Linked DNA regions of Homo sapiens: region 1 is linked to region 2. The links come from fine-mapping of genetic effects on gene expression. A gene starts in region 2. The other region holds a variant in brackets. All regions are shown on one strand. Distances are from middle to middle.

The links. PIP is the estimated chance that this variant, and not a neighbour inherited with it, causes the effect.
Region 1: its variant is the best candidate, but not a certain one, in a credible set for the expression of SMARCE1 in putamen (GTEx, PIP 0.67).

Annotation. Positions count from the first base shown.
Region 1 is chr17:39,807,972-39,812,367 of GRCh38, forward strand. The region is part of intron 3 of IKZF3 (IKAROS family zinc finger 3); the gene reads right to left. Among named protein-coding and RNA genes, the nearest start is that of IKZF3, 54 kb to the right of the region's middle. The variant T/C (reference allele first, on the strand shown) is at 1,708.
Region 2 is chr17:40,645,465-40,649,860 of GRCh38, forward strand. It overlaps SMARCE1 (SWI/SNF related BAF chromatin remodeling complex subunit E1), which reads right to left and starts at 2,354. Exons shown (of 11, transcript NM_003079.5): 1 at 2,309-2,354; 2 at 332-383; 3 at 112-155. The coding sequence starts at 338. RefSeq lists a silencer at 2,593-2,887.

The DNA.
Region 1 (4,396 bases), 840 kb before region 2:
ATTTACTAGAAAAGTCATTGAATTGAACATTTAAAGTATGTAAATTATAACCACATTAAAGCTGTTTTAAAAAGAAATCTATACAGATAAACAAAACAAAATAAAATTGATAGCTCTGATACTGACTCTGATACTGACTCTGTCTCAAAATGGGAATGTTTAGCTACCCATTCACCAATGATTACAAGAAGCATCATGGTAAGTATAGTTTCTGAGCTATGATTACTTCCATATGACAAATGCTCAGAAGACTATTTTTAACTCCTTTTGTTCCTGTACAACTGATTTCATTCCCTTTCAACAAAATTAACAAGAATTAGCTTGTTGAAAAACACAAGGGCACCCGCTACTTGACAGTAGGAAAGGAAGGTTAAAAAATCAAGTATAAAAGAGTTGGCCTGATTGGACATTTCCCATACTTAGTTATTTTATTATCGATTTCAGACAAATACCTAACTACTGATTTTTGCTCTTTCTAAATTGGGCTAAAATTCATAAGGATCCAGATACATAAGGATATATTACTTCTTTGTTATATTTTGTGCTTTTATGGACCATACTGTCTCACTTTCTGTTCTGTTAATAATTTAGTGTGTTTTACTAGGCTGTGGTTATTAATTAGTTAATGAGCACTATCTCTGGACTGCAAAGCAGCAGTGATATAAATGCACCTGGGGAAGTTCACTGAGGGTTCATTCAGGAATGTGAGTTCTCTCGTAAGACAAAATAAGAAAATAAAGAATTATCTTTTCTTTACAGTCTGAGAGAGAGAGAGAACTAGTACAACCTGAAGGACTAGAACCGGAAAATCAAGCTGATGGTAAGTAAGGAATAGGTCATATAAAAATGCAAGAGAGAGTTCTGGGCTCCAAGTAATGAAAAGAGTAATAATGGACCATTAAGTAGTGTTTGTTCAAATGTCGGTGGATGGGAGGTATGACCACAGCCTAGGCTGACTTAACAGAAGTTAACAAAGAGCCTTTCCTATTTTCTCAAGGGCTGCTATGAAATTACTTAAGGAGTAAGAAAGGATAACAAAGGCCCTGGCTGAGATTTTTGCTTCTGTAGACGCAGGTGCAGAAAAGGCTGGTTCTAACACATCTTGTCAATGTCTTTAATGCCACCAGACTGATGAATATAGTGAAATATCTATCGTGATCCCATTTTTACTTATTCAGTTGACATAATTAGCAAATCTATTAAGGGTAAGGTCACAAATTATTTTTAGTTATTAAACCATAGGTCTCCATATGTTACTGTTTAGACAGTATCACCCAGTGCAGAATGTAGTTTTCAAGACTGTCATTCCTGCAACCTCAAATCTAGATCCAAATGCAGTCAGTTAAAGCAGATTTCAACCAGGCAGCTAAACGAGAAAACATCTGGACCTACCAGTCAAAATGAGAAAGGTCACATGTTAAACCCAGATAATCTTGTTTATTGGTGTTTGAAGGTTATACACCAAGGGCTGGATTACCAGGGTGCTCCTTTAGGCCTGGCTCTGACATCTTCATTCACCTGCTGTGTGTGTGACGCTTTAAAATCCAAAGCTTTGAAAGTACTGTGTTATTAGTCACTTCCAAATGTAATTTTCCTAATTCTAAGCCTGAATACTATGTCAACCTATTGCTAGACTGCTGATTAGATCCTGGAAGAAACCGCAAGACACAACTGTCAGGGGCAGATGATGTCTATTCTTTTAAAAAC[T/C]GTTTTCCACATTTCCATTCAGCATTTTTCTATGGATGAAGCACCTGTAATTTTCTCCATCAAAATTAAGAAAAGAAAAGGCCTCTGAATAAGCAAGGAATAAAATTAAAAGATTGACATAGATTTCAGGATGATGATGAAGAAAGGGAGATTGAATCTTTCATTATTTTTCATAATTAGTATTATTTTATATACAAACAACTGAACCAAAATTGTTTATGTTGGAAGCAATTCCACATGCCAGTGCATATGAAACTATTATGAAAACAGCAAAGTCAAGTTTCTTAAGACTTTACATGCTTTGGTCAGATCTTTTTAATCTTTTTTAGGTTGTGAACATCTTTGAGAACTGTACTCTTTGCCCAGAAAAAGGTACACATGCCCATAAACACGAAATTTCACATACTATTGATTGATTTCTCAAACCCTGAGATCTCAGGTTGAGAATCTCTGCCTCAGGCCTTTAAATAGGCTCAGGCTTAAAGACACCTCTGTGTTATATTTTGTAAACTTCATATAATAGTGGTTGGCATTTTTCAAATTTTTTGCTCAAGCATCCTCAAAAGAATTTTGAAAAATTATATATCTCTCTTATACATAGTGGACATTAAGTACATACTAAGTTGACATCTATAATTTTTCATCATGAGTTTAACTATTTTTAAACAAAAGAATACAGTTTGTGTATTGTAAATAATGATAGTTTAAACCATTACCACACCCTTTCAAATGTATCTACTTAGGAATATATACATATTTGTGATTTAATTTACTCCATCATGAATTTAAAAATACATAAGTAAGCTTTTCAAGAAAGTCAGGAAATTTCTCTTTGAACTTCTATTTCCATTTCACTACCCCCATGGAATTTTCTCCTAATGTAGTACTCTTGTATGCTTGAGTCATCTATTGTTCATCCCATTATATGTATCTGCAGCAAAAAAAAAAAAAAAAACCCAATAAAATATAGTTACTTTTGTTAACATGAAGTGCTATGTGTCAAAATGTGTTTTCTTCTGGATTGAATTAGCATTACAATTATTAACATACAATTGAGTAAAACAATATAGGTATATTATAATTTGATCAATAATTACCAAATACAAAAAGTAAAATTTATTGGGACTGTATCTCCTAATGAGAAGGATAGAGAGGAAATAAGTTATGAAAATTTGATAAAAGAAATTATCTAATTGATCCTTTGTTTGGCATCTTGGAAGTACTTACACCTTAGAGGTGGGTGAGAAATGTTCTTTTCTTTTATAAAGTGGAGAAGGAAGGCTGGGCATGGTGGCTTATGCCTGTAATCTCAGCAATTTGGGAGACCAAGGCGAGAAGATCACTTGAGTCTAGGAGTTCAAGACCAGCCTGGGCAACACAGTGAGACCCCTCTACAAAAAGTTAAAAAATTAGCAGGGCATGGTGGTGGGTGCCTGTAGACCTAGTTACTCAGGAGGTTGAGGTGGAAGTATTGCTTGAGCCCACGAGGTCAAGGCTACAGTGAACTGTGATTACACCACTGCACTCCAGCCTGGACAGCAGAGCAAGACCCTGTCTGAAAGAAAGAAAGAAAGAGAGGGAGAGAAAGAAAAAGAGGGAGAAAGGGAGGAAATAAAAAAAGAGAAAGAGAAAGAGAGAAGGAAAGAAAGAAAGAAAGAAAGAAAGGGAAAGAAAGACAGAAAGGGAAAGAAAGAAGGAAGGAAGGAAGGAAGAAAGGACGGAAGGAAGAAAGGAAGGAAGAAAAGGAAGGAAGGAAAGGAAGGAAGGAAGAAAGAAAGAAAGGAAGAAAGAAAAGAAAAAGCAAGCAAGCTCAATGGCAGCAGTCTTCTAGGCAGATCAGTTTTAGGAAGAAGGGCAGAGAATATACTGAAGTTGCGGACCTGGAAATTGATTCTCTTAAAATTATCCCATGCAATCCTTGGAAAGTTTTCCCAGCATTTCAAGAACACTACTAAAATAAAAGACCCCAATGCCAAAATGTACTCACATGCTGTTCTTCACTTTAGTTAATGAACCAATAATTATTTAGTGAGCACTTGTGAACACTGCAGGGGATAAATGGATGAATGGATGGTTGGATGGAAAGGCAGAAAGAAAAATGGATAAACACTGAGCATTTACTATATTCCCAGAACTTTGGCACAAAAGAACACAACTATAAAAGACTGTTCTTGCCATGTCTTTGGGACACAATCAAGTACAATAACACCCTGCCACAATACAATGTGTACAAATTTGGATGTAAAAGGATTGCTGATTGCCTCCAGTTGTCTACCCTTGCCCACTTCTCAGACAAGAGCAAGCTAAAGTTCTTATGGGAATGGATAGGAAGTAATTGCTTCAAGATCATTTGGGTCTTTTAAGGTTTACAATTGTGTCCAGTTTAAACTTCACTGTCATTGCTTTGTGCTTTTTGTAACAGTATATTAAAAACAAAACAAAACACAAAACCACCTACTATATTTCATTTACTTGCAATAATATGACCCCCATATTTTACAAGATAAAATTTCGGGATCCCATCTACTATGTTGTGGAGAGAGCTCATGTACTCTTCTTGTCTCCGACACTATTCTCTTTCATGCAAACTACAACACAAAAACAAAAACAAAACAGAACACCCAAAACCCAAAATCCCTTTGGGCTGACAAATTACAAAAAATTTGATAGTTCTGATGAGCCAGGACAG
Region 2 (4,396 bases):
TGAATTTCATCCTGTTGCTGTGATGATTGAGTGACTGTCACTGGAAGACATCTGGGTTTTTGTATCAAGGCCAGAGTTGGCTATTACATTAACAAGAAAATTAAAACTTACTGTTGCAGGAGCTGGGGTGGGAGGTGGGGCATAAGATGGTCTTTCTGTTTGAAAGAAAATAAATAACTTCTTGTAAACAACTGAGATATAATACTATGCAACAAAACTACCAATGGTCCTGTTTTGAAGAAAAAAAAATGAGAGTATTTTGGAATTCCCACTTGCTAGGGCATTAGTCTCTTATTAACATAGATTGATAAATATAAAAATTGAAACTTACTTGACATTTTGGAAGATTAAGTTCTCAGTTCCTTAAGAATGAATCTGAGACACTAAAATAAAAAAAAAAGGAAAAAAAAAAGAGAATCAAAACTCAGCAAGCATACGAGAATGTTTTCCTAATGAATAGGGTAATTTAATTGGTATTTCTGAGTAAAATTACTTCACCTTAATTCCTAGTAATTAAGCCTTTTGTGTATTTTAACTAGTTCTTATAGGTCATTTGGTTGATTAGAATTAAATGACTAAAATAAAGTACTGGGGATATTTAGAAATGTACTTTCAGGTTTTTTCTTGTGATACTAAGCTACCTCTTGTATGGAAAACATTTTGCTGACGCCATGTAAACATTTCATCAGACTGATACAAGGATGAGAATAGAAAGTGATGTATTATCAGGGTCCAACGCAACAAGGCCTACCAGATACTGACAGCTCCCTGATCAGCAACTGTATCATGCTTTTGGGATAACAATTTTTATTAAAATTAGGCAGCATTTTATTCCTGGAAGCAGTGCAAAAGGTAATTGGTATGACAATGAACTTCACATTCTCTTATAATGGTAAATAGCTTCATAAATGCTGGGAATAAATTTTGAGAGTCTACCTGAAAAACTTTTATTCATCATTCACAGCCCATTTCAAAATTTTTCTCCTCAAGGGAACTTTCTTGATACATTACCTGGGCAGAATTAACTGCTCCCCCATCTGTATTCCTATACAGTTTACACAGATCTATATTATTATAACTTTTTTTTAACTTATCAATATGGCTAGATTGTATGCTACTTGGAAAGAGGGACCATGTCAGGACCTAGCTCAATTCTTAGGAAATTTTTTCCTAGTATTACCAGCTCACAACATAACCAGGCACATGTGAGCTTGTTCTTTACATCAACATACATCACAAATAGTGAGGTACAAAAAGACAAAAATTCATCTTTGGAAAGAAGGCAAATAAACTTCTATGACTATTGGAGGTATTTGCAACCAAACATGTGGAATAGATCTGATTTTTCGCTTCTATTATTAATTTTAAGGAAATTCCCTGGAGCATAAGGAATGAGTCCTGGTGTGGAAAGAAACAGCTCATTTTCTCAATGGTCCAACCTGAGTCTTTCCCTCTTAAAGAACAGCCAGAAACCTTTGACTCTGGTGTAGATTTCCTTTCTGCTCACATTAAGGGAGCTGTCAACATCCAGCAGGCCTCGCTGCAGGGGACCCTGACAACTAACATAAGCTCCCTGTACGTTATACTTCATTGTTAATACTTTAAAATTATTGCTCTCTTTTGCTAGAATACAAAATTTAAGAGTGGGCTTGTACATTTGTCCACCGTTGGATCCATCTTTGGTGCCTGGCATAAAAATAAATACCCGATAAATATTTGTTCAAGAAATACTTTATACGGGGTACGCTTATGACACTATTTCGCTTAACACTCACAAGTACTTTATATGTACAGCTATCCCCATTTTACAGATGAAACAAGGGAGTCTCGGAAAGTTTAAACAACTTGTCTGAAGCCATATGCAGCCAGGAAGTGCCAAAGTTGGGTTTCAAACCCAGGCCAAACTATTTCAGAGCTCTGCTCGTCCTCAAGTCGCTGCCTGAACCAATGGGGGAACCTTCTGCCCGGGTGGGGGGTGAACCACGGACCTGCCTTGCCCACGGCTTCCTGAGGTCGCTCTCTTTGTCTTGGAGAATGTACTTTACTAGCAACTCCCCTAAAACGGGGTATTCACAGGTGCTTTGACCAATTTCGGGGGACTGGCCTTGCCTCCAAGGAGGGGGCCCCAGATGGGACTCCCTCCCAACCCTCGCTCTGCTAGGCCTCAAGGAGGCCTCAACCGGCTCCTGGCTCTGGCCCCACGGCCAAGGCTGAACCCCAGCAACCCCCGGGAACTCGGGGTCTAGCCAAGCGGGGACACCACGACTTGCACCCACCGACCCGGTCCGTCCCACTTGGAAACACTCACCCGCGGGCAGAAAAAGCGCCCGCAGCTCCGGCTTCGCTTCCCTTTGTCCCGCGCTCGCCCCGCCCCTCGCGTCCGGAGCTTCCGCACTCGCACTTTCCACACTCTTCTTAATTTTTTTTTTTTTCCGGGCCCCACCCGACCCTCTTTAGAAAAACTAACCTTCTAGTGAAGATGCGGTGATGCTTAGCACACTCAGGGATTTTTTTCAGGACCCATTGGATCCTCAAAACTCCCCGAATTTTGATACTTTCCCAGCCGGGCGCTGATTCGTCACGGCGAAGAGGGCCGAGGAGGCCCGACCTAACACAGAATAGGCCTGGGTTTAGCGGCTGTGAGGAGCCGGAGCCGCCGCAGCGACCGAGGAAGTGGCGGGAGGTGCCGAGCCTTGCGGAGGGGCGGTGGGGGCCGCGGTGGGAGACGGCGGATGGCGCTCAGCGCGAGGCCGCGGAACCACTGTGGCAGCAAGCAGTTCGGCCAGACTCCCGCTGAGCCCGCTCCTGGAGGGGCCCTCCCCGACTCCGGTCTTGCTTTCCTTTAGGCTGTGGGTCAGAGTCTACACTTCACTAAACCTGGGATGGAGGCGTGGAGGACTTGCTTCGCGGCGTTTGCGTCCTCGCAGGCGCCTCGCAGGGCTTCCTGCCCTCACGGCGGGGGAGTAGCTTTGGCGAAAATCAGCACGAGTTCTGCAGTTTTTCCAAGCGCTTTTAGGGTGTAATCGTCCCAGGTTTCTAAGCCAAGGCCCGGAGAGTTGACCCCCTCGCAACAGCTTGTGTGTCCTTGCAGCGCCGCGGGTGCCACCTGGTCTCCGCCTCAGCGCTGCCTCGGCTCCTTCGGTTCCCACCAGCGGGAACGACCGTCCCCACTTTCAGCTTAAACTCATCTGTCCTTCTGGATCCAGCTCAGAGGTCTCTTTGTGATGCCCTCCTGGAACTTCCCCCCTAGTAATCCTTCCTTTGTATTCCCGTGGCTCTTTGATAATAATGGTTGGAGTCCTGAACCCGACCCTTTGTATCGGACCGTGTTTGTCATCTCCAGTGCTTTATGAAGGCCTTGAAAGCAAGGTTCAGCCGTCTGTATTGGTCATCTTCCCATTGCCAGTGCCTACGAAGGGCTTGACCCATTCATTGTTAGACGCTCAGTAAGTGTGTATTGAGGCAGCCCTCTGTGCCACTCCAGGGCTCTTTCCACTAAATCATGAGTATGTTGGTTTACCAGATGGAATGAGTAGCCTCTTCTTTGGATACATAAACACCCGATGGATATTGTGGGTCACTGTGGAGGGAGAATGAACGTATGGGATCCCTGACCTGTGGTTACTGGAAAACAGTTGACATTTAGAGAGAGGCTGAATTCTTGGGCTTCCCGTAGCCCCCATCCTGAGTGTGCCAACAGGGACTAGAAGCATCTCTAGTCTGCAAAGCGAGGAACAAGTGATACTCTGTCCAATTTTTCCAATATTGTTATACTCATGAATAGAGATTAATGAAATTGAAGAGCATATTCAAGAGAAAGACTAAAGGAGAAGTCGTCTGCCCCGTGGACAGGCAGCTTGAGTGGTGCTTGAGAAAATGTACATGAAATTGCTTGTTAAAAAATATTCACGCCTGTAATCCCAGCTCTTTTGGGAGGCCGAGGCGGGCAGATTACTAGGTCAGGAGATCGAGACCATCCTGGCTAACACGGTGAAACCCCGTCCCTACTAAAAATACAAAAACAAAATTAGCCGGGCGTGGCGGCGGGCGCCTGTGGTCCCAGCTATTGGGGAGGCTGAGGCAGGAGAATGGCGTGAACCCGGGAGGCGGAGCTTGCAGTGAACGGAGATGGCGCCACTGCACTCCAGCCTGGGCGAGAGAGCGAGACTCTGTCTCAAAAAAAAAAAAATTATATATATATATATGTATATATCCATCAGAGACATGTAAAGGATTAAAGTACGATACACAAAGGCCTCAGAAGGGATTTCAGTACATTCTTTTTCTGGCTTCGTCCAGCAACTCCAGCCTGGTTTCTTCCCTGCCTTTGGGATTATGGTGGGAGGATTGGGCGAGTGCAGTGCTGGGGAGGCGCTGTGTGTTGTCTCTAGGCAGT